Linked DNA regions of Homo sapiens. The protein of the gene in region 5 interacts with the protein of the main gene of each other region in a pairwise test. Each region holds a gene or a part of one and is shown on either strand. Other genes may lie near its edges. The genes, in order: OFD1, STMN2, GLYAT, MTF2, VOPP1, MAP7D1 and SMPD3.

Region 1 (4,021 bases), on a different chromosome or scaffold from region 5:
TCTCCACCTCCTATGAAGTCCTGTCACTCTTACTGCCTCTTAAATACTTTAAGTTTTTCACAGCCAGAGATCAAAACTCATCGTACTCATCTTCAATGCTGTACACAAAGCTGACATCCAATTCTGTCCTCACAGGACTTAGATACCATATAAGGCTTATATTCCCAGCACACAACTCTGGAGTCAGGCTAGATTCCTCACTGCTCCCAAGAAGGTCGTGGCTTTTTTTTTTCTTTTAATGATTCCTTTGCTCATTTTTCCCCTTCCTGTGATGTTCTCCTTTTTGCTCACCACCCGAATCCTACCCATCAAGGCCCCGATAAAGACACACTTTTTCCACAGAGATGATCTGGATCACTTCCATCTTCAACCACCTCCCCTTTAAACTCTTTATCCAGTCTACAATGTATCTTAGTTCTTGTTCAATTCTCTGGCTGTAACATTTTCATTATCGCTTCTGAGAGGTTTGGTTCCTTTCCTTTCTAATTACATTTAAGCATCATGAGGACTGGCTCACCTTTACCTCACAGCACACAATGGTTGGTACTCTAAAACGTTTAGCTCTGTGGATCTCAACCCGGAGCGATCTTGCTTCCAAGAGGACATCTGGCAATATCTGGAGACATCTTTGGTTGTCACACTTGGGGGAGAAGGTGATACTGACAAAATAGAGAGCAAGGATACAGCTAAACCTACAATGCACAGGACAGCCTCCCAAAACAAAGAATCTTCCGGCTCCAAAAGGCAACAGTGCAGCCGTTAAGAAACCCTGGGTTAGCTGAATGACCCAGTGAACCGCGAAACCACAGCCCCCGAGAGGGCGGACGTCTGCAGGTGGAAGGGCTGCGCGGATGAGCCAGCGGAGGGCTGGCAGGTCCGGCCCGGCCACCCCGGGGAGGGGTGGAGGTACAGGACCAACATCCGCGTCACGCAGGGGCTACGAAGTCCTCCAGGGACTCAAAACACCCGCCCCCCGCCGCACTTGCTCCATTCCCTACCTGCAGTGGGAGGCCGACAACGGAAACGCAATGTCAGTTTCCGCGGAAGAGACCCGCGCCCCGAACCTGTAGCCAGAACGCCGAAGCAGTTCTCGCGATACCCTGGGATGTGCTCTCGCGATACGTAGGCGGAGCTTCCGGCCGGTGCTGGGCAACCAAGCTCATGCGCCGTAGCTCTTCAGCTCGGGAAGGCTATATTTAGCAGGTTTCCGGAAGTTGCCGGACTGGCTGTGAGGCGGTCCTGCCTCGCTGCCTTCAGTCCCTAGTGTCTGGGTCCCCGCCCTCCAGCCGCCTTTGAGTCGTGCCTGGGTCCTCGCCCTTGCCTCAGAACCGCGAAGAAAGGAAGCTCGCGTGTTTGCTAGAAAACCTAGTTGGGAGTGCGAGGCAGAGAACGTTCAGCACCTTTGTTCCTCCCGAACCCTCGGGACAGAGGCAGGGTTCTGAGGGCAGGGATTCCCCCTCGTCTTGGCCCCACCGCCCGGGCTGGGCACTAAACTCGGGCCGCGGCGGGGCGAGCGAGGCGGGCTCCGGAGGGAGCTGACGCCTGATGATGGCGCAGGTAGACACACCTGCCCCTTCTCGGGCGGAAATAAAGTCTTGTTTTGTGTTCGTTAAACTTTCGCCGCTAGGCCTCTTATGGCTTCCCCGGAGGCCACTGGTCTGTTTTCAGACGTTCACGTTCCCTCTGCCCCGCAGGTAACCTATAACCATTTTGTCTTTTAGTCCAACATGTTTACCGTGGCTGATGTGTTGAGTCAAGATGAACTGCGCAAAAAGCTATACCAGACGTTTAAGGATCGGGGTATACTGGATACACTCAAGGTATCGGATTTAGGCGTATCTGTGTCAGCTTTTACAAGTGTAACCTGTAACAGGTAGTTCAAATTCAATCAAGGTTTAGGTTTTAATAATCGTATGATACATAGATTGTATTGGTGAATTACATTTTTATATTCCCGAATAACTCTGTATCCTGAAACATTACAGTCTCTTGAAAATGTTTGAGAAAATGTTGAGTTTGAGTCGTCTTAAAGGAGCATATTCAAATAATTAATTGAACTGACAATAAGATAGGAGAAGGAAATATTTGTATAATGAACACAGTAAGATTAGGCTTGTTTTATAAATATGGCTTATAGGTTCCTAAATTAATAAGTGGGTTTGTAATACATTTGGATGAAGGACATTGACACCATATAGAAAATACTAGTGTACTGCTTAATAATAGTTTGGGAAATGAAAAATTTTATCTTTAAACTATATTGAAATGTATGAATGTTTAGTTTGGGCAGAAAATACCTATTAGTATGCTTTATATTTGGATTAACAGCCAGGAGTAGGATTAGCTCAACGTGTTTTCATTGAAATATGCATTTCAAAAGCATATTTTACGTTTAAAATATGTAGCTATATCCTGTGTATGTATCCTTTTTTAATTTAAATTATATGGTGAGCATTTCCCTGTTTCCTTAAAAGTTTTTTGAAATCTTCATTTTCAGTGGCAACAGGCTTATCTTTGGATATTTTTGTAATGTATATAGCAGTCCCCTGTTGTTGAATATTTTGGTTATATTCTCCAACAGTCCACAGAGGTGTGATGAAGTGGCAGAATTTTTTCCTATACTTAATATCCCAATCGTAAGCTGCTGAAATGGGCTTCTAGGGAAGTGAAGTTATGAGTCTGCAAGTGGATCTGGCTAACCACCCGTTTCATTTGGAAGCTGGGGAAAGAAAGCTTTTTCTAGAACCCACTGGACTGCTTGTCTCACGGGGTAAGACAAAGTGTGCAGGGGAAGGTTTCTAACTTCTGGCCATGGATCTAGAACCATTATGGAAATAGAAGGAAGGTTTCCAATGAATGTAGCTCATCTGTGTATATCTCTAATGAAACAGTCCTGCTGAAATTTCTTTCCCTTGTGTTTCTTTTTTATTTTTGTTTTTATTTTATGCTAGACACAACTTCGAAACCAGCTAATTCATGAGTTGATGCACCCTGTATTGAGTGGAGAACTGCAGCCTCGGTCCATTTCAGTAGAAGGGAGCTCCCTCTTAATAGGCGCCTCTAACTCTTTAGTGGCAGATCACTTACAAAGATGTGGCTATGAATATTCACTTTCTGTTTTCTTTCCAGAAAGTGGTTTGGCAAAAGAAAAGGTAAAGTCTTTCCTTTTCTGTTTCTGAAGTTTTTATTAACAGGTTCTTCCTCTGCTGACAGTAAAGTGCTGTATGATAGCTAAGTGCTCCTCGACTAGGTCCATTTCTGTTTCCTCTTTGAATTCACATTGTACCTGCACATAATATATTTGTTATATAACAAGTGGGTACTAAATTTGAAATTAATTTCTTGGCGTCTCATTTAGTCTCACATAAAACAGTGATGTATAGAATCTCTAAATGTTTCAGACCTATAATTGATCTATCTATCCTCTATCTTGTCTAATAAGACTCTGCCAATCTGCTGAATGTCTGCTGTAAGCTTGGCACTGTGATAGGCACACTGCAGATGTTTTGTGTGTTACGGATGAGGAACCAGACTCTGGAGAGGTGAATCAATTTGCCCAACATCAAGTAACTTTTAAGTGACAATGCAGGGTGGTAAATCTAGATCTCTAACATGAGCTCTTTTTTTCCTGCACTAGTTTCTTCAGATGTTTCTCTTTGTAATTAGATAAGTGAGAAATACGTAATTTAAAAAATCTGTAAAGTTCTCAAATATTAAAAACACTTGTTTTTTTTTTTTACTACTTTTCTAATTATTTTAACTATATTTCTTCACCATTACTGTTGAACATTAGTACTACTTTATTATTTTAAAGGCAGATACAGCAGACTTTCCCTGTGGATATGTGCGTGTTTTTTTTTTTTTAATAGACTTTATTTTTTCAGAGCAGTTTTGGGTTCACAGCAAAGTTAAGTGGGAAGTACAGAGAATTCCCATATACCTGCTGCCCCTACACACTCATAGCCTCCCCCACTGTCAACATCTTGCATCAAGGTGGTACATTTGCTACAATCTATAAGCC
Region 2 (3,500 bases), on a different chromosome or scaffold from region 5:
TCAGAGACTGAGAATGAAAACAGAATCATCAGAACTTCAGGATAAGGTTTTTTGAACCTTAGATGAGAAGGGCCATCTCTAACAGAAGACATGAAACTCTGAGAAATAGAAAACAGGAGGCTCATCTAATTAAACTCTCAGGGCTCTGATGACAGGCACACTCCTGTTTTGCTCTGCATCTCCAATGCCTATCACACAAAGGCACTTGCTACTGGCGGGAAGGGTGACTGACTGCTCAGAAAAGGATTGAGGCGTCTTTCTCAAACATCCCATTTCTCAATGCTTATTCCAATTTCTGGAAACGGACACAGCTAAACTACTCACAGCTATACTGTATATTTTCAAAGGAAAGGTTTTTTGAGGGGATAGGTGGGAGACAGCATAGAGAGTACAAAAGTGAAAGACAGCATTTTTCAGAAGAACTCCAGCACAGCTCCTCCTGACTCATGGGAATGAATATATGTTTAGGTTGTTGAAGAGAAGGGCACCAGGATACCAGAACTGGATGAAACATCCCCTATGAGCTAATCTTTGCTATGGTCCCATGTGATGCTATTATACCCTAGAATGGGCTTACCAGTGTTCATAAATACCCTGGCCTTTTCTGGCAAATATATTTTTCTAATTTAATATTTTAATTAAATATATATTTAATGTCATATATTAAACAAATATTAAATCAAATGTTATTTATACTTATATCAATATAATATATAGACATTAATATTTCCAGTGTAACATTTTTCCTACAGATTGCCTCGTGAGGCTTGTATAGAAGTCTTACACATTTCAAAAGCATGAATCAGCCTCCCTGAATCCACTCACCATGGGAAAATTTGACAAAATTCCAGCTTTCATGATGGATTCCCATTTCTCTACCATGTTGCACCTCCTGCTAACTCAATGCTACACTGTGAGACCCTGCCCATGGGAGTTAGTTGTCCTCACACCTGCAGCAAATTTTGACTTCGTCTCTGTGCTCAGGCATATGGAAGTTCACCCAGCTGTGCTGCATATGAATATATCCATCTGCTCAGGACTCTGCTGAGATTACCTTTTCCTGCAGACGTTCAATAATAGCAGCTAGATTAGCCTCACGGTTTTCCTTAATTTGTTCCATTTTCAGGATCAGCTTTTCCTCCGCCATCTTGCTGAAGTTGTTGTTCTCCTCCAAAGCCTTCTGAAGGACTTCTCGCTCGTGTTCCCTCTTCTCTGCCAATTGTTTCAGCACCTGGGCCTCCTGAGACTGGGGAAGAAAAACATAGCCATCTTATAATTATCCAAACACAAACCTAGCAGAATAACGGCCCACCAATTGGAGGGAGCATTCTTTTCAGATGAATAGTACTCCCAGCCTTGAGCACTATTGTCAAGTCTGTACTCATCTGCATGGCTTAGAGTTTTCTATAGAATGTGGCTAGTTGGGAAATGCGGTTAGCTGAATTTTCAGCTGTGAGTATATTTCGGACTGTCTTAGAAGAAGAAGCATTTAATCCTCATTGAGGAGTTACAAATTTTTTTAAAAAAAGGCTTTGTTGCTAAGCGTTTATGCAACAGAAAATGCTATAATGAATTACAGGATGGCAATATTCAACCAAAGCCTGAGGAAAACAGTTGAGGACTGAGACAAGTTCTGATCTTCTTCCTGATCCATTGTTTTTTCATCAACTGTAGGCTAGGCCCTACAATAAGCTTTTCAATTTTCATCAATCAAATAATCAAATTCACTTTCTCCTTTTATTTCACACCCCCTTCCCCCCTCCCTATCCCCCATACACCAAAGTCTCTTTGGAGATCTGAGAACAGTGCAAACTTAGTGTCCCCTTGGCCACAGAGAGCAGAAAGTCCTTGTTTTGACCCTCTCTTGAAACCCTGTGGTTGCTCAGTGATTTAGATCCAGATGTACACCCTGCCCTGCACTTTGAGCACTGTAATTTTCTTCCAGCATCAGGAGTCTGTTTGGCTCTGTACAGTGAATGGTAATCACTGGAGCACTTGATAACAATGCAGGTGCCTGGCATCTACCTCCAAAGATTCTGATTCCAAGGTTCTTTGGTGAGGCCCAGTGATAAGCATCACTAGTGACTCAAATGCAGGTAGTCCAGTCTACCTTTTGTAAGTCATACTGGCATGGGCTTTGATGTCAGGCCTGTGTTCAAGTCTTACCTCTGTTTGTGACCCAGGATGTGTTACGTAACTTCTTTCCATATTCTTTTTATTCTCCCCATTATGCAGCTGAGAAAAGTCCCACCCAATACTGACCTATTTAGGTTTAAGACTAAATTATTACACACTCATGGCTTCTGGATAATTTCTCAGGATCAGCTGATGCCCCGAGGCAATCCTTCACAGGAGTAATTATAAGTGGGAATATCTAAACAATGGTTGATCAAAAAATAATCCTAAGTGCCCTGTTAAATACTGATTACCATTGAAAGCATTAGTGGGAAAACATTTTAGTTGATGGTAGTGGTTGTGGACATTTACTGGAAAGGTCTTTTTGTATAAACAATATGGGGCCTGGAGAAAGGAGAAACTTCTCTTCAAATAAAATTCTACAGAAATGGGAAAGTCAGACAGCCTTACACATCTTTACTGATGTGTTTATTCTCAAGTTGATCAGGAATAGGTCTGTGGCTCACTGGAGATTAGACAGAAAATCCTGGGAACCAGCCCTGCCTCTTGCTTTAACCCCATAATGGTTTCAGGACATTTTACTATTTATGTGTTTATTTTTTTTTAGATAGAGTCTCGCTCTGTCACCCAGGCAGAAGTACAGTGGCGTGATCTCTGCTCACTGTAATCTCTGCCTCTGAGGTTCAAGCGATTCTCATGTCTCAGCTTCCTGAGTAGCTGAGATTACAGGTGTGTGCTACCACACCCTGCTAATTTTTGTATTTTTAGTAGAGATGGGGTTTCGTCATGTTGGCCAGGCTAGTCTTGAACTCCTGGCTTAAGTGATCCACCCGCCTCGGCCTCCCAAAGTACTGGGATTATAGGTGTGAGCCACTGTGCTTGGCTGGTTTTAGGACATTTTTAGTGGAACCAATGCTTTCTTACTTTGTATTGGTTTCAGGAAAACCAATACAAAAATAATAAGAAAATTATAACATAAATTGAGTTCAAACTCCAATGGAGCCTTTCTGGAAGAAATATGAATAAAATATTTTCTAGCTGGTTCACTCTCCTGCCTCTAGGTGGGACTGTTGGTAAAGCATCCTACACAGACTTTGCTTATTTGCTGTTATCAGGACTACGGAATTGTTACAGGGAGAGAGGTGTGTGTGTAAATATTTAAAGTTTCTCTCTCTGGGAAAAGTCTTCATGAAATTAATTTTTTTGGTAATGGATAAGAATAGTACCTATCTCATATGGTTGTCAGGATCAAACAAAATAATGTTTGCAAGGTATTTAATGCAGTGTCTAATATCAAGTAAGTTAGTACTGAATGAGTGGTAATCATTATTATCAAAAGCAAAATTTAAGACACTTGTGACAAG
Region 3 (3,344 bases), on a different chromosome or scaffold from region 5:
TGCACTCCAGACTGGGTGACAGCACGAAACTCTGTCTCAAAAAAAGAAAAAAAAAATAGAAAGCTGTCCTAACCTGTTGCAACCTGAAAGATTATCTCTCTTGTTCCCCCTCAACTGACTCTTGTTTGAGACAATTATCTAAACTTTTAATAGAGTTCAGGCATTCTGAAGTAATGCTATAATTGGAATGTTTGTGTTTCCTCCAAAATTCATGTTGAAACTTAATCCTCAATGTAACAGTATTAAGAGATAGTCTTTAAGAGATAATTAGGCCACAAGAACGTCCACCCTTATGGATGGGATTTGTGCCTGAAGGAAAAAGGACTGGAGGAAATTAGCTGGGCTCCTTTTTGCTCTTCTGTCTTTCTGCCATGTGAGGACACAGTGTTCATCCCCTACAAATAACACAGCAATAATGCACCACCTTGGAAGCAGGGACTGGATTCTCACAGACACCAAATCTGCTGGCACCATGATTTTAGACTTCCAGCCTCCAGAACTGTGATAAATAAATTTTTAATTATTTTATTATTATTTTAAATAAACAAATAAGTTCAGACTGTTATTTATGAATTACCCAGTCTCAGGTATTTTGTTACAGCAGGAACAAACTGAGATTAGTAATGTGCTGAGGCTAATTGGACAAGCAGGTGTTCATGCTGTCTCCTCTCCCTTCAACTCCTATCTCTCCTCAATAAACCATCACATCCCTGGGTCAAGGTGCTCCCACCTTCACCTTTTCATACACTCATTCCTTTCATGCTGTCACCATGATGAACCACTTAGCTTGAACAAACACAATAAAAATTGTATACAGTCAAACACAAAACTTTCTGTATTATTTAGGAGTTGTGGGTTTTGGAAGCTCATCTTTAGAAAAAACATTGGATCTTTTTTCCTGGAATAGGAGCTTGGAGAGGATAGGATATCATCAGTTGATATTTCTTCTAGTAACATTCCCTGCTATATCATGTATACTGTATTTAGCCTAATATCCCATATATATTTGTGTCCAGTATATTTAATGTACCTATAAAGTAGCAATAACAGGAGAGGATAATCTCTAAAGACCTGCTGAGGAGAGTCCACTTGTTGATCATAAGGGAAAGGCTTTAGAAAGAAAGAAGTCATAGTGCTCAGAAAATTTAATTCACCTCTTCCTAGCTCCCAGAAAAACTGGCAAGGGTCTTGCAACTGAGGAACCAGGGATTCCAGGAGAAGTAATTTGGAGCAATATGTATCTGATGAAGTGTCATAGAGGTCCTGGAAATGTGGGGAGGTAAATTGCTTATGTCAAATGTAAGAGGACCTGGGCCTGCTTCCCACTGAGAAACCTGTGAATGCAGGGACCATGGCGATGCTGTTGAACATCACACTGCTTCCCCAGAGTCCAAACAGTGCCCACTCCTTTACTGCTGATTACAATTTATTATTTCTTTTCATCCACCATCCACTCCTCAAATTATACGCCCAGACCTGCCCAACACTGTCTTATGTTCAGGATTGGCATCACAGAGGTACACAGTTCCACTGGTTCCAGCTTCTGGGAATGGGAACATGTTGCAGTGTGTAACTCATTTTTTGCATAGCTTCATTGCTGTAGTCTACATGAGAATAGACAGGAAACCCAAGTTTGCCCAATTTCTGGGCGTGGGAATAGATGACATACGTCACAAGGCCATGGAGCCGGTATTCCGGCAAGGTGCCTGCCATTCTCATCTCTCCAGTCTGGTCCATTAGATCCCAGCACACAGGGGTCCCCTCAGGCCCCAGGAGACAGCAGGTGGGAAAGGTCTGAATGCAGCGCTCAATGAATCTCTGGCTCCTCTCATTACCACCAAAATGCCAGAATTTATTCACCAAGTGAGCATGGGTAACATCCATGGATGAGAGTTTAAACATCTCTTGGTTGCTATGGAGGGTCCAAGAAGAAAACAAAATCCATTAGTATAAAGGTTTGTATTTGCTGTGACCTCTATTGTCTTGAGAGACAGAGTAGACAGAAGAAATAACAAATGTGAAGTCCTGGAATATAGATGAGCTTGTGATGAAAGAGGAACAGAGTGAAGGTCAGAGCTGTTGGAGGAAGAAAGCAGGAAGGGCAATAAAGGTCCAAGTGGTAGCCAGAGGCCTGGTTTATTCTAGATGAGAAGGGAGATGGTGGAGTCTTTTAAGCAGGAGAGAAACATGTTCTGAGTTACATTTTTTAAAAATGTAATTCTGATTTCTTTGTACAACATTGATTGTAGGAAAGCCAGAGTGAATGCAGGGAGAGAAGTTGGGAGGTTACTTGAGAGGTGTGAGTGGTATAGACTGGATTTTATCAAACTCACATGGCCTTGGGTTTGCCACCATTGGGAGATAAAATCTTTGATTTCAGCAGGAAAGGAGTCAGTTCCTTGGCTGTTTCAGCTGCCATATAGAGAATGCGTTGTGTTTGTTTGACTTTGAAGGACTTAATGGCTGCAAGATTTTGTATAGCCTCATTCAGGCTAGGCTGTGAACCTAGACGGTATAATAAACAGAGATGAAATGGTTTAGGTATATTCTAGACTGAAGTTCTGCAGTGGAGTAAGAAGTGTCTGGGATTTAGTATCATAAAATCTTGGTTCTGGGCTTGGTGCTACCACTGTGTGACCCATGTCAATAGTAATTTAAAAAGTGAAGATTCCTCTTCAAAAAGACTTCCCTCCCCATCTAATTAAGAATCAATAGTAACTTCCTCTAGAAGCAAAATTTATTCAAAGACCTGTGCTAGCATTCTTAGATAACTGCTAGAAGATAATAAAGAAATCAATGTACTTTGTGTTCTTAGCTCCCACAGTTTAGCCTAAATATTTACCCTGGCATACTTATACTGGTCCAAGCAAGCATTAGGCCATAGCCTGTTCCTCTTCCTTACTTGGAGATGTTTTACCTTTCTCAGCATTCCACAAGTTACTTGCCCCTTCCTTTGTTCTCCTCTGCCTTTATCTCTTTTAAAAGGTTTTAAGTTGCTAGCCAGTTGGGACAAATGCAGAATGTGAGGCCCTGTTCCAGCCAATGGAAACCAGACACAACAGTAGGGTGGACATGTCAGGTTATACATAACCCTGTCTCCTCTGTTCAGTTCTCATGGCAAAATTGCTGGTGAGTGTACCCTTTCTGCAGAAAGTAAAAATGGCCTTACTGAGGAAATTAAATTTATGTTCAAGTGCTATTTCTTTACAGCACTGGGGAAGAAGCATTTCAAACAGTAAGGATTTGTGTAATTTTTTCTGTTTTACCTAAGCAAAAACATGCTTAGGGATGGATTCAGTTATGATTGTGTTATTAACAGCAGTATCTGCACTGGAACCAAGTTT
Region 4 (3,500 bases), on a different chromosome or scaffold from region 5:
GAAGGCCAACACAGGAGGATCACTTGAGATCGGGAGTTCAAGACCAGCCTGGGCAAATTAGCAAAACCATCTCTACAAAAAATAAAAAAGCATTACTTAGGTGTGGTGGCACAATCTGTAGTCCCAGCCACTAGAGAGGCCGACATGGGAGGATTGTTTGAAGCCAGGAGTTTGAGGCTGCAATGAGCCATGATTGTGCCACCGCACTCTAGCCTGGGCAACAGAGTGAGAATCTGTCTCTTAAAAAGAAAAAAAAAAATCATATCTTCCTAAAGCAAAGAACACTTGTGTAGCAGAGGCATTAAAAAGCCTAACGAGCACAGCTTCTAAACAATGGTATACTTTTTCTCTGTGTACACAGCAAATTTCCACACAAACATGAAAAATACATTTGTACTCTAGAAAGCAAAAATATTTCAAATGAATATTAACAACTATTGGGATCTACATATGGATTACCTCTCAAAAAGCTGATAGACACAACTTACATCACTTTCAATTGCTAAAAAATTATTCAATCAACACTTTACAAAGAAAAGAAATCTAGAGTAAAAAAAGTAAAAAAAATAAGAATGTAAAATATCTACCCATAATGCCTGGAAATGCTAGACGAGGTAGTTTCTTTTGCACTGGAAGCACCCGTGAAATCCACATCTGAGGTATTGGATGAATGTGCAGTTCCCTCAGTTCTCCTGAGACAAAAGAATTTAAATTGTGTAACGACTATATTATATAACAAACAAATATTAATATCTACTCAAAAGACAAAACCTAGAAAGGGAGAAAATAACTTTCTATTTACCCTATAGAACAAGGTAAATCCAAAGTAGGATTCTCTGAAATTGATTCCTTATCCTGGAAAATAAAAATATATACTTAAAGCATGTCTCTAAAGTAAGCTGAAAAAAATACTAGCTTCTCAGTTATTTCATGCATCCTTCTTCTTGAGAACATATACCAACATATCCTCTTACCAAAAGTGGCTCAGCAGTTTTTTGAATCATTTTTCTTGTATATGGGCCAGGTGGACGACCTACAGATTTTTTCTTTCCTTTTTTTTCTATGCCATTGCTTACTTCCCTGAAATGGAAAACCATTATGCATTTAATCTCTGCATAAAGAAAACAAAGACATTGACTCTATGTATGTAACTAGACACATATACATATATTTTATTATTTTATATTAATGGTAATAAAAAGTAAATATTAGTTGAATCCACAAGTTTAGTCAAGTGCACAGATAATATATTCTAATCCAAATAAATATTTCTTGACTTTAAAGATATTTACATTATGAAAGGTTTAAAGAAAGTCCTCTTTAATATAATTCTGAACAATATATACCACTTAAAGATTTAAAAACAACAACAAAAACCAGACAATTATACTGGATGGAAGATTTCAAAACTCCTAAAAGCTCAATTATATAGTTTAATTTTAGGTGGTTACAACTTGGAGGATGTTTCAAGGATTTACTACTAAAAATGACTATGAATTTAGCAGTTAACTTCATGGAGTCAGGAAATATCTATGTTAACATTGTAGTAGTCATAAAGGCTGCCTTTAGATATATATGTAGATTCTTGAATGACACTATCAGAAAGAGAATGAAGCCCAGAGTGGCAGAATGTAAAGGAGAAAGGAGTAAGAAATCCTTCATATTCTCAGGGAGTCATTCAAAAGGAAAAATCAGAAAGACCTAGAAAACCATTTTTTAAACATAAAGCCAAATACCAAGCAATAGGAAGGAAAAAAGTGCAATAGGCAAAGACACTAATTATAGAAAAAAAGAAAATATATATATAGAAAGAATATCTATTTCATTTACTCAGCAATAGCTACCATATAAAGATGATATTAGATAATATGGATACAAAGGTGTTCCCTGTGCTAAAGAGTTCACAATATAGTTAGAAAGTGACAAATGTGTATACAAGCCAAGCTAATAAAATGGAGTGAGGGCTATGAGGAAATTGTCCAGGAGACTTCAATTAAGGAGAGAAAAAAGAACACTATACAATAGCCTAGAAAGAGATGAATGGAGAAAGTAGGAAAAAAACTTATCCCTCCAGATGCCAAAAAAGGTCAGGGAATAAAGGTGGAAGTATGAGGAAGGAGAAAGTAGGGGAACTAGAAGGACAAAGTAGAACCAGACGCTATAATCAAAAGTCTCAAGAATAAGATGGATGGGATATCCATTTCTTTTGTAAAATGATCAACATAATATTTATAAAGGACTCCTGGACTAAAGAAAGTAATCTCAAACTAAAAGGAACAACTTATACACAAGGTCCAGAAGGAACTGAGGATGCCTTTAAAGAAAGCAGCTGAATCCTTATCTGGTGGCATCAGATGACCTGATAGCTACCACAAAGGGAATATCCTATCACAATCATGATAGAAATGAAAAAGCTTGTGGAATTTTTTTTTCTGATTCATAATATGGGCAACTGCTAGCAAAGGATCTGAGTGACAAAATCTGAAAGTGATAGAATAAGCATTCTTTCCTTCATTCAAAGAAAACTTAATTAGTAGCTAATTTCTTACAAACTTCATATAACTGGACTCATTGTCAAGGCTTTGTAATGACATTTTCCTTATCTCCAAGATGACTATTCCATACCTTTAACTGACCCTTAAATTCCCCTCTCTGTACAAGCCTCTCAGCTATCTTTACCTTATATTTCATCGAGAAAATGGAGGCTACCAGGCAAGAACTTCAGTCAATTTCCTTATCTCCAAGATGACTATTCCATACCCTTAATTGACCCTTAAATTCCCCTCTCTGTACAAGTCTCTCAGCTATCTTTACCTTATATTTCATCGAGAAAATGGAGGCTACCAGGCAAGAACTTCGGTCAATTTCCAACTGCCCAATCTACAACAGAACTGGCATCTGTACCCATCTTCTCTTTCACCCCATTTCAACAGAAGGATGCTTCTCCTTCTAGAAAAGGCCAGTCCCACATTCAGGCTCTACATCCCTTCTCTTTTGGCTTCTACTCTCCTATACCAATTTCCTCTTCTCCACTGGATCATTCCTACTTACACACAAAAACAGGTTCCAACTATCTCCCATCTATTTTAAAAAACCATCATTTGACTAGTCCTATCCCCCTCTTCAGCTGCCATTCCATTTGTCGGCCTCCCTACATAGGAAAGCTTCTAGGTGTTGATGACATATACCCTTTCCATTTTCTCCCCTCTCATTCAGGATCCTTAAAGATAGTTTCCTATTTTCCTCCTTTCCTTTACTACTGTTATTATTTTGAATCTGCCTGTGTCCCTGATACGCAGGAGAAGCCCAGTTTGACACGTAAATTTGGCAATGCTGGGTTCAGTCATACTTTCACCCAGTCCTATCTGGTTTCTATCTGTACCACTTCAAAGAAATTCCTTTTATCAAGGTCACTAATAACAAAATGATACCTTATGCAATAAATATTTTTCTTTCATTTTAATCTACCTCTCACTAGCATTCAATACACTTTAATATAC
Region 5 (3,500 bases):
AAGAGCACGGGAACCCCAAGGCTACAGCCGTGCTTATTTCCATCTCTCTTCAGCTGGGGAGAGAACATCACTTCTTCCTGAAAATTCTCCCACCCCTTGCTGCCCTGGCTCCTGGTGCACCACCTCCTGCCGCATCTTCCCATTGCCTATGCATCCTTCTCATCAGCCTTAGACACTTCATGCTCCTCTCCTGGCCTCAGTGCTGCTCCTTCCTGCAGCCTTCTCCTGGACATGCCCATGTTTCCACCACCACCTTCCCACAGGAGGCTCCAGCTCCAGAGCTGCCTCCGCCCTCTCCAGTCCAGCAGGGACTTTTTCATCTGCCCCGCCCTTGTCCTGGTGCTGCTGTAGCAGTAGTGTGACCTTGGTAAGGCGCTAATTCTTGCAGAGCCCCTGTTCTCCTGTATTGCCCTGCCTGTTGGGGGGCCCTTATTGTGAGCAGAACCTAGGGCCTTTTCTTCTCAGCCCTTGTCTCCCACGCTGTGCGCTCCCCATCGAGTCAATCCCAGGCCAGTCATTGCCGACAGCCCTCAGTGCCTCATTCTCTCTTCTCCATTTTTTCTCTAATATTCAGAAGCCTTCATAATGTCTTGCTTAGACTGTTGCAATGCCCTCTTTTTAAAAATCCTTGGTTTTTTAATTGTATAACATATAGCAGGATCCAGATCTAAATAAAACATAATCTCTGCCCTTGCGAAACTCATGGTAATGGCAGTAAGTCGACTTCTAAATAGAACACACCCAAGGCAGCGGGTGAGATGCATCAGAGCAGCGCAGGTGGCATCTGTGGGACCACACGGCATCTCACTCAGGTGGTGTCTGTGGGACGGCACAGATGCAGGGCGAGGCAGCCTCTCACACAGGGTGGCATCTGTGCTGAGTGCCCTCCTGGCAGTTGAGAGCGCTCAGTGAGAGACAGTGCAGGCCTGGCCTGTGCTTCTGTTCTACATGCTCTCCTTCCGCACATGCGCAGATTCCCATGGTCTGACTTATGTGGGCTTTGGGACATCTTGTGTACCTTGATGGGCATGTTTCTAGAGTCAGAACTATATCACACTGTGTCAGGGGGAGAATTGCAAAAAAAGAAAAAAAACCCTACACAATATTCACACAGGGGCAGCTTCTTTGACACTTGAGTGTCTCCCTGAGCTAAAGGAAGCCTCACTTCAAAAACACCTGAGTCCTGTCACAAAATCAGCTATACCCAGGGAACACCCAGCACTTTCACGGTTTTGTCTGATTCTTTATTTACATATGCATAATTCTATAGTGTTAATCTGCATGATCACAGTAAGCACACTGAAAACAGCACCTCAGAGTGAGGGCTAGATTTGGGGTCGGGTGTCCAGCCTGTACCCTCCTGTCACCTTCTGTGGTGCCCCCGTGCCCTGCTCCTCAGCTTGTCACTAGGGAGTCAGCCTGCGGCTCCGCTCCTGACCCATGGAGCGTCAATCAGCTGCAGCCTGGCTATGTGTGCCCAGGTGCACGGCCTCCCTGCCTGTGAGTAACTCCTGCCCTGAGGGCACACTAGCCCGGCAGGGAGAATGGAGACCTTACTTCAGAAATGGTCACCAGCCAATGGCGTGCCCAGAGGGGTTGTGGAGCTCCTGCGATAATGCCAGGCTGAGTCGCGAAGCCTGGGTGGTCTTTGCAGCTCTTCCGATAGTTCACCGCAGACAGCCTCACCTTACTGTGGCCCAGTTTCCTCCACCCTAATGTGTGAACTGGTAACGTGGAATGTAGTCCAGTAGAATCAAAGCCCCGAGAGGGCAGGGACCTGCCTATTGTGTTGCTTGTCACCACAGCCCAGGTGCCCCCTCACCGGGCATGTTGGGTCCTTCATACACTGTCGCTGAGTGAATGACGGGGCGTGGTCTGCTGGCCCTGCAGCCTGCACATACTTGCGGTGTGATGGGGCTTTCCCTTCTGTGCTCACCTATGTTTGTCTGTCTTTCAGGAGCCCAGCAGCCGGGGCCGCCCTATTACACCGACCCAGGAGGACCGGGGATGAACCCTGTCGGGAATTCCATGGCAATGGCTTTCCAGGTCCCACCCAACTCACCCCAGGGGAGTGTGGCCTGCCCGCCCCCTCCAGCCTACTGCAACACGCCTCCGCCCCCGTACGAACAGGTAGTGAAGGCCAAGTAGTGGGGTGCCCACGTGCAAGAGGAGAGACAGGAGAGGGCCTTTCCCTGGCCTTTCTGTCTTCGTTGATGTTCACTTCCAGGAACGGTCTCGTGGGCTGCTAAGGGCAGTTCCTCTGATATCCTCACAGCAAGCACAGCTCTCTTTCAGGCTTTCCATGGAGTACAATATATGAACTCACACTTTGTCTCCTCTGTTGCTTCTGTTTCTGACGCAGTCTGTGCTCTCACATGGTAGTGTGGTGACAGTCCCCGAGGGCTGACGTCCTTACGGTGGCGTGACCAGATCTACAGGAGAGAGACTGAGAGGAAGAAGGCAGTGCTGGAGGTGCAGGTGGCATGTAGAGGGGCCAGGCCGAGCATCCCAGGCAAGCATCCTTCTGCCCGGGTATTAATAGGAAGCCCCATGCCGGGCGGCTCAGCCGATGAAGCAGCAGCCGACTGAGCTGAGCCCAGCAGGTCATCTGCTCCAGCCTGTCCTCTCGTCAGCCTTCCTCTTCCAGAAGCTGTTGGAGAGACATTCAGGAGAGAGCAAGCCCCTTGTCATGTTTCTGTCTCTGTTCATATCCTAAAGATAGACTTCTCCTGCACCGCCAGGGAAGGGTAGCACGTGCAGCTCTCACCGCAGGATGGGGCCTAGAATCAGGCTTGCCTTGGAGGCCTGACAGTGATCTGACATCCACTAAGCAAATTTATTTAAATTCATGGGAAATCACTTCCTGCCCCAAACTGAGACATTGCATTTTGTGAGCTCTTGGTCTGATTTGGAGAAAGGACTGTTACCCATTTTTTTGGTGTGTTTATGGAAGTGCATGTAGAGCGTCCTGCCCTTTGAAATCAGACTGGGTGTGTGTCTTCCCTGGACATCACTGCCTCTCCAGGGCATTCTCAGGCCCGGGGGTCTCCTTCCCTCAGGCAGCTCCAGTGGTGGGTTCTGAAGGGTGCTTTCAAAACGGGGCACATCTGGCTGGGAAGTCACATGGACTCTTCCAGGGAGAGAGACCAGCTGAGGCGTCTCTCTCTGAGGTTGTGTTGGGTCTAAGCGGGTGTGTGCTGGGCTCCAAGGAGGAGGAGCTTGCTGGGAAAAGACAGGAGAAGTACTGACTCAACTGCACTGACCATGTTGTCATAATTAGAATAAAGAAGAAGTGGTCGGAAATGCACATTCCTGGATAGGAATCACAGCTCACCCCAGGATCTCACAGGTAGTCTCCTGAGTAGTTGACGGCTAGCGGGGAGCTAGTTCCGCCGCATAGTTATAGTGTTGATGTGTGAACGCTGACCTGTCCTGTGTGCTAAGAGCTATGCAGCTTAGCTGAGGCGCCTAGATTACTAGATGTGCTGTATCACGGGGAA
Region 6 (3,500 bases), on a different chromosome or scaffold from region 5:
CTTCAGTAAATTAGTTTGGGCCTGGAAACTGGCTGGGGACATGCAGGTTCTGAGATGAACATGACATTTAGTGTTTAGAGAGACTAAGCTTTGGAGCAGCTTGAGGGTCTAAATACACACTAGCTAGGTAGCTTTCTACAGTACCCCCACCCACATATCTACATACCCAGCCACCCACCCACCCATCGGACATTCATTAAACAGACACAGAACTCCCACTCTGTGCCAGGCAGGTCCTGTATAAGACTCTGGGGCTGCAAAAAGGACTAAGACTGAGTTTCTTCTCTTGATAAGCTCTCACACTGACAAGGGCAGGGGGTGGCAGGCAAACAGAAAAGCTAGACTGAGTTATCAGTGTTGTGAGAGGAATATTTGGCCCAACAAGAGTTGTTGGGGTGGGAGGAGGGAGAGACAAAAGGAAAGGACTGCCAGCTCTCAGAGGGTGGAGATGGGGTGTTAGTATTCTGAGACATGTGACAGTCTCTCTGAGGGACTTGGCCCTGATCTTTCTGCAGACCCCAGGCACAGCCCCTCTTGGAGCTCTTAGGAAGACAGGACTTTTTGACCCCACAATGCAACCCACCACTGCACTTTTGCCCTGCTAATGCTCTTTGTGCCAAGAAATAAATACAAATTATTTGTCTCTTATCTCATTCTTAACAAATACTTCTGGTAGATATTAGTGTAGCAAAATAAAACCAACAGTGGCAAAACCTCACAATCTGGCATAGACCAAAAATAAGATAAAATTAAGTAGCCGAAGGATCATATTTGATGGTTAAAAATGAGAATGATCATAAATAGATTAACCATACTGTATAGATAACTAACCAAGGAGTTTTGGCTTAATGTGATTTGCTCCATAACACTGTGCCAATGACATTTCATCAGGGTTGGCATAATTGTGAAGAAAATATTTGTATTCAGGGTCAATAGTGTGCCAGGTCACAAGAGGAGTTCCAAACTTCTTGTTTGCCTCTTGAGAAGTTTTTCTTGTTGAGCTGCTGGAGTAAACACTCATTATTATTTTTATTAACTTCTACCTGTGTGGCTTAGTCCAGGAAGCTGCCCAAACACTATTGAGATGGAGTTGTTTTGCTTCTCTTCAAATGTTTATCTTTTTGCTATAAGTTGCCACATAGATATATACTTTTTTTCTTTTTTTTTTTTTTTTTTTTTTTTTTTGGAGACAGCATCTGATTCTGTCGCCCAGGCTGGAGTGCAGTAGTGCAGTCTCAGATCACTGCAGCTTCCACCTCTGGGTTCAAGGGATTCTTCTCTCAGCCTCCCAAGTAGCTGGGACTACAGGTGTGCACAACCACGCCCAGCTAATTTTTGTAGTTTTAGTAGACATGGGGTTTTGCCATTTGCCCAGGCTGCTCCCGAACTCCTGGGCTCAAACGATCTGCTCTCCTTGGCCTCCCAAAGTGCTGGGATTACAGGCGTGAGCCACTGCGCCCAGCCTAGATCTACTCTTTATTAGAGTAAAAATCTTCTATATGCTTTAGGCTAGGGCAGCCTCATAGTATAGCACTTTATTTGTGTTATACTGTTTATTCAAATATTTTATGACTATCTCCGTATACTTGGCACTGTGGTAGCTGCTGGTGATGCAGCAGTGAGCAAAGTAGACATGGCCAGCTCTTGTGGGGCTCCCTCACCTTCTAGGAGGAGGCTGACAATAAGGAAAGAACCATGCAAGGAAGTTTAAAATCATAACAGTGACAGTGTTCCAAAGGCACATGAAACCATGACTATATACAACAAGGGAATTTATCCTAATCAGAGAAGCCAAGGAAGGCTTCCATGAGGAAGTGATGACTGAACTAACATATGTAGGGCAAATAGGAGTTAGCTAAGAAAAGAGAGTATGTGCAAAGGCCCTGTGGCAGGAGGGAGTGTGGATGGTCATCAGCATTAAAGGAAGGTCAGTGTGGCTGGAGTTCAGAGAGCAAGCGGGGAGCAGGGTAGGAGAGGAGATCCAAGAAGTAGGGGGAGGGAGTCAGGAACTTCAGATTATACTATTATACTGGACTAGTAGGGTGAGTTCAAGAAGGGGAAGCCACTGACAAGTTTCAAGTGGCAAAGAGCACCGTGATCAGATTTGCATTTGCTCTGGCTGCTCAGTGGAGCAGAGAGTGGGAATGGGTACAGGCGAGCAGTGAGAGGACTTTGTAGTCATCCAGGTGAGAGCGATGATGGTGATGATGATATCTGCCTGGGTGTAGTTCATTCATTTCTTCATTCAACAAATAGTTATGGAGCACCTATGTGCCAGGCTCTGTTGGCCCTAGAGATAGACCAGCTAACAAAATAGGCAAAAATTTGTGCCCTCATAGAGATTATATTCTAGCAGTGGGAGACTTAAAATGGTGTTAATGCCTATGGAGAAAAAGAAGACTTGGAAAGAAAAATCTAGTTGGAACTGGGAGGGAGACTTCAACTGCAGTTTGTAGTTTTATTTAATTTTTTTTCTTTTTCTGAGACAGCATCTTACTCTGTTGCCCAAGCTGGTATACAGTGGTATAATCATCGCTCACTGTAGCCTCAAACTCCTGGGCTCAAGGTATCCTCCTGCCTTAGCATCCTAACTAGCTGAGACTACAGGTGTGCACCACCATGCCCAGCTGTTTTTTATTTTTTAGTTGAGATAGGGTCTGGCTGTGTTGCCCAGGCTGTTCTCAAGCTCCTGGCCTCAAGTGATCCTCCCACCTCAGTCTCCCAAATTGCTGGGATTACAGGTGTGAGCCACCTTGCCTGGCCTTTATTTAATTTTATTTAAAATTTTTCTTTTTTTTCTTTTTCTTTTTTTTTTTTTTTAGAGACAGGGTTTTGCTTTGTCACCCAGGCTGGAGTACAGCAGCATGCTCATAGTTCACTGTAACCTCAGTCTCTATTTCAGCATGTCATGATGCCTGGGTAATTTAAAAAAATTTTTTTAGAGATGGAATCTCACTATGTTGTCCAGGCTGATCTCAAACTCCTGGCCTTAAGGGATCCTCCTGTCTGGGTCTCCCAAAGTGTTGGGATTACAGGCATAAGCCACCGCACCACGCCTGCAGTTTGTAGCTTTTTTTTTTTTTTTTTTGGAGACGGAGTCTCACTCTGTCATCCAGGCTGGAGTGCAGTGGCACGATCTTGGCTCACCGCATCCTCTGCCTCCTGGGTTCAAGTGATTCACCAGCCTCAGCCTCCCGAGTAGCTGGGATTACAGGCACATGCTACCACACCCAGCTAATTTTTGTGTTTTTTAGTAGACGGGATTTCGCCATTGTGGCCAGGCTGGTCTCGAACTCCTGACCTCAGGTGATCCACCTGCCTTGGCCTCCCAAGGTGCTGGGATTACAGGCGTGAGCCACCGCTCCCAGCCCAGTTTGTAGTTTTAAATAGGGGCTAAGGGAAGGCTCCATTTAAAAGTGACATCAAAATAAAGACCTGAAGGAGGGGAGGGAACGAGGCACGCAGAATCTGGGGGCAGAGAATTCAAGGCAGAGAAACAG
Region 7 (3,500 bases), on a different chromosome or scaffold from region 5:
CTGCACTGCCCTCTTCACGCCCATCTACCTGGCCCTCCTGGTGGCCTCGCTGCCCTTTGCGTTTCTCGGCTTTCTCTTCTGGTCCCCACTGCAGTCGGCCCGCCGGCCCTACATCTATTCACGGCTGGAAGACAAGGGCCTGGCCGGTGGGGCAGCCCTGCTCAGTGAATGGAAGGGCACGGGGCCTGGCAAAAGCTTCTGCTTTGCCACTGCCAACGTCTGCCTCCTGCCCGACTCACTCGCCAGGGTCAACAACCTTTTTAACACCCAAGCGCGGGCCAAGGAGATCGGGCAGAGAATCCGCAATGGGGCCGCCCGGCCCCAGATCAAAATTTACATCGACTCCCCCACCAATACCTCCATCAGCGCCGCTAGCTTCAGCAGCCTGGTGTCACCACAGGGCGGCGATGGGGTGGCCCGGGCCGTCCCCGGGAGCATTAAGAGGACAGCCTCTGTGGAGTACAAGGGTGACGGTGGGCGGCACCCCGGTGACGAGGCTGCCAACGGCCCAGCCTCTGGGGACCCTGTCGACAGCAGCAGCCCGGAGGATGCCTGCATCGTGCGCATCGGTGGCGAGGAGGGCGGCCGGCCACCTGAAGCTGACGACCCTGTGCCTGGGGGCCAGGCCAGGAACGGAGCTGGCGGGGGCCCAAGGGGCCAGACGCCCAACCATAATCAGCAGGACGGGGATTCAGGGAGCCTGGGCAGCCCCTCGGCCTCCCGGGAGTCCCTGGTGAAGGGGCGAGCTGGGCCAGACACCAGTGCCAGCGGGGAGCCAGGTGCCAACAGCAAGCTCCTGTACAAGGCCTCGGTGGTGAAGAAGGCGGCTGCACGCAGGAGGCGGCACCCCGACGAGGCCTTCGACCATGAGGTCTCCGCCTTCTTCCCCGCCAACCTGGACTTCCTGTGCCTGCAGGAGGTGTTTGACAAGCGAGCAGCCACCAAATTGAAAGAGCAGCTGCACGGCTACTTCGAGTACATCCTGTACGACGTCGGGGTCTACGGCTGCCAGGGCTGCTGCAGCTTCAAGTGTCTCAACAGCGGCCTCCTCTTTGCCAGCCGCTACCCCATCATGGACGTGGCCTATCACTGTTACCCCAACAAGTGTAACGACGATGCCCTGGCCTCTAAGGGAGCTCTGTTTCTCAAGGTAGGAGACCTCGGCCCAGCCTGAGGACCACGTGCCAGCTGGTCCTAGAGCCATGTAGGCAGGGGGGCTGCAGCGGGGAGTCCTCATCGTCATGGGGGCTGGAGTGGGAGGTTGGAGTGGGAGGCAGACGCGGTCTTTCCTGGAGCCAAACAGCAGGGCCCTGGCTCGGGGACAGGGTCAAGACCAATGCAGGGATGAGCACCGAGGCTCTGGGCTCAGACAGACCCATCTGGGTGATCTGGGCCCGTTCCTCAGATCTCTGAGCCACCATTTCCCCAACTGTAAAGTGGAGAGAGGGTGGGAGTGGAACAGAGCAGTAAGGCCTGGGAAGGGTTCCGAGCTGGCGCAAGAGTGGCGGTGGTAGCCGTGGAGATGGTGGCAGTGATAAAGTGAGGAAGAACAGGAGGTAGGGGCCCTGTCGGTTCATAACGAGGCAGAGAGACCAGCCCAGACCAAGCGCATCAGGCAAGCAGACGGGACCCTCAGGTCTCCAGGCCGTGACACCGCCTGGCTCACTGAGGCCACTAGCTTCCCTGGCCTGGACACCCCTCCCTCCTGGCTGTCGTGCAGCTGCCCTGCCAGGCTGTCTGCCCACCAGCCATGGTTTCGCTTCCATAGTCACTAATTAAAGTGAATCATAATTATTTCTGCTAATTTGGATTCGATTGGAGGAGTTTTTAGGCTGTGGTAATTTGGTCATTACACATTATCTTCTACTGCGCCTGAGATGCTCAGAGTGTCGACTTTTGTTCTCTATCCAAAAGCCGCTCATGGTGCTTCCACGGTTTTCTGAAGTGTCATTTGGCCAGTGGATGCAGCACAGGGCTTTCTGCCCTGAGAGGCAGCAGCTGTTTCAGATGTGGGTTCTGTCCCTTTAGGGTGAGACATGAAAAAGTGGTGGCTTTGCAGGGAGGGCTGCGGTTCAGAGGCCTGCCTAGGGCAGGTTTCCTCACTTCCCAGTTCGCCTTCAGAAGCAACCACACTCCGCCTGCCCAGGGAAACACTGGTGCGCAACCTGGCGCCTGCCATGAGTGGCAGAGCTTGTCTTCAAGCCCTATGGGAGCCAGGGCAGGCAGCAAGGGCCCTGGCCCCCACTTCTGGTTCGTCCATGGCTCTTGTGTGGCTCTGCCAGGCCCAGAGTTTGGGTCCTCTGCTCTTCATTCACAGCAAGGGATGCTGAAATTGAAGCAACTCCTGACAGATAGATCCAACCTTCCCATTTTGGCATATGGTCCGTTGGTGTTCTGTTCCCTGGATATATTTTTGTCTCGACAGCTAGAGTGACTTTCTGGGGAGGAAGGGGATGTGTTGCCAGGTCCAGGGTGGGAGGATGTGCCCCTTACTCCCACCCCTCACTCCCACCCTACTACAGGTGGCTCAGAGGCCGGGCCCTCCCCCGCCCCCTACCCCAGCCCACTTCTGCACAGATCAATCCACACATCCTGTCCCCACCTCCCTCCTCTGTGGGGCACCCTCACTGTTCCCACTGAGCTCAACAGTGTCTGCCTGGGACAGCCCCTCCTCCCAGGTTCTGTCCTGAAAGTTCTTTTCATCTTCCTCTACCTCCTGGGTCTCAAACTGTAACCTGATCTATGACATTCAAAAATTTTTTGTATTGACCAATTTTTTTTTTTTTTTTTTGAGACGGAGTTTCACTCTTGTTGTCCAGGCTGGAGTGCAGTGGCACGATCTCGGCTCACCACAACCTCTGCCTCCCGGGTTCAAGCAATTCTCCTGCCATGGCCTCCCAAGTAGCTGGGATTACAGACATGCACCACCACGCCTGGCTAATTTTTTATTTTTAGTAGAGACGGAGTTTCACCGTGTTGGTCAGGGTGATCTCAAACTCCCGACCTCAGGTGATCTGCCCACCTCGGCCTCCCAAAGTGCTGGAATTACAGGCGTGAGCCACCATACCCAGCCTTGACCAATATGTTAAAATCAAGATATTTCACAGAAAACCCGGTTTGCAGGTTCTCTCAGCAGCCCCAGGCCTGCCACATTCCGTACCCCACGCGGCTGCAGTGAGCTGGAGCCGTGGTTGGCTGCCCCGCAGTGGGGTTTCCCAGCAACCATCATGACACCTGCCTGGGAGTGAGACTCTGCAGCTTCCATTTCTGCCCTTTCTGAGGCCCCTCTGCTTTGTCCTGGCCCAGACCTCTCCCCCCAGCCCTACATCTGGCTGCCTCCAGGACACATCCCCATTCACTCGCAAACCAGACTCAGCCTCTGCCCCGGGCTGCTCCTCTTCTGTGTTCTGCCATCCTGAAGCCAGAAGGACCACCTTGGCTGCTCTGTCCTGTGCCCGACCCATCCATTCCAGGCCCCTAGCTCACTTTCCAGATGGCCC

The links.
Region 1: the proteins of VOPP1 (region 5) and OFD1 interact in a two-hybrid assay, tested with the Homo sapiens proteins (one large-scale study listed by IntAct).
Region 2: the proteins of VOPP1 (region 5) and STMN2 interact in a two-hybrid assay, tested with the Homo sapiens proteins (one large-scale study listed by IntAct).
Region 3: the proteins of VOPP1 (region 5) and GLYAT interact in a two-hybrid assay, tested with the Homo sapiens proteins (one large-scale study listed by IntAct).
Region 4: the proteins of VOPP1 (region 5) and MTF2 interact in a two-hybrid assay, tested with the Homo sapiens proteins (one large-scale study listed by IntAct).
Region 6: the proteins of VOPP1 (region 5) and MAP7D1 interact in a two-hybrid assay, tested with the Homo sapiens proteins (one large-scale study listed by IntAct).
Region 7: the proteins of VOPP1 (region 5) and SMPD3 interact in a two-hybrid assay, tested with the Homo sapiens proteins (one large-scale study listed by IntAct).

The regions. Positions count from the first base shown.
Region 1 is NC_000023.11:13,733,527-13,737,547, forward strand, and holds the start of OFD1 (centriole and centriolar satellite protein OFD1), read left to right. Parts: upstream 1-1,221; 5' UTR 1,222-1,545; coding exon 1,546-1,557; intron 1,558-1,721; coding exon 1,722-1,820; intron 1,821-2,951; coding exon 2,952-3,152; intron 3,153-4,021. Other genes in the region: TRAPPC2 (trafficking protein particle complex subunit 2), read right to left, coding at 524-606. UniProt on the Homo sapiens protein: Component of the centrioles controlling mother and daughter centrioles length. Recruits to the centriole IFT88 and centriole distal appendage-specific proteins including CEP164. Involved in the biogenesis of the cilium, a centriole-associated function.
Region 2 is NC_000008.11:79,652,617-79,656,116, reverse strand, and holds part of STMN2 (stathmin-2), read right to left. Parts: intron 1,247-3,500; coding exon 1,055-1,246; intron 1-1,054. UniProt on the Homo sapiens protein: Regulator of microtubule stability. When phosphorylated by MAPK8, stabilizes microtubules and consequently controls neurite length in cortical neurons.
Region 3 is NC_000011.10:58,708,257-58,711,600, forward strand, and holds the end of GLYAT (glycine N-acyltransferase), read right to left. Parts: intron 2,506-3,344; coding exon 2,334-2,505; coding exon of another isoform or gene 2,330-2,333; exon of another isoform or gene 1,913-2,329; coding exon 1,510-1,912; 3' UTR 501-1,509; downstream 1-500. UniProt on the Homo sapiens protein: Mitochondrial acyltransferase which transfers an acyl group to the N-terminus of glycine and glutamine, although much less efficiently.
Region 4 is NC_000001.11:93,131,283-93,134,782, reverse strand, and holds part of MTF2 (metal-response element-binding transcription factor 2), read right to left. Parts: intron 1,081-3,500; coding exon 975-1,080; intron 856-974; coding exon 803-855; intron 693-802; coding exon 588-692; intron 1-587. UniProt on the Homo sapiens protein: Polycomb group (PcG) protein that specifically binds histone H3 trimethylated at 'Lys-36' (H3K36me3) and recruits the PRC2 complex, thus enhancing PRC2 H3K27me3 methylation activity.
Region 5 is NC_000007.14:55,471,503-55,475,002, reverse strand, and holds part of VOPP1 (WW domain binding protein VOPP1 isoform 1 precursor), read left to right. Parts: intron 1-1,957; coding exon 1,958-2,148; coding exon of another isoform or gene 2,149-2,249; 3' UTR 2,250-3,500. UniProt on the Homo sapiens protein: Increases the transcriptional activity of NFKB1 by facilitating its nuclear translocation, DNA-binding and associated apoptotic response, when overexpressed. May sequester WWOX in lysosomal vesicles and thereby regulate WWOX role as tumor suppressor.
Region 6 is NC_000001.11:36,162,660-36,166,159, forward strand, and holds part of MAP7D1 (MAP7 domain-containing protein 1), read left to right. Parts: intron 1-3,500. UniProt on the Homo sapiens protein: Microtubule-stabilizing protein involved in the control of cell motility and neurite outgrowth. Facilitate microtubule stabilization through the maintenance of acetylated stable microtubules.
Region 7 is NC_000016.10:68,368,509-68,372,008, reverse strand, and holds part of SMPD3 (sphingomyelin phosphodiesterase 3), read left to right. Parts: coding exon 1-1,150; intron 1,151-3,500. UniProt on the Homo sapiens protein: Catalyzes the hydrolysis of sphingomyelin to form ceramide and phosphocholine. Ceramide mediates numerous cellular functions, such as apoptosis and growth arrest, and is capable of regulating these 2 cellular events independently.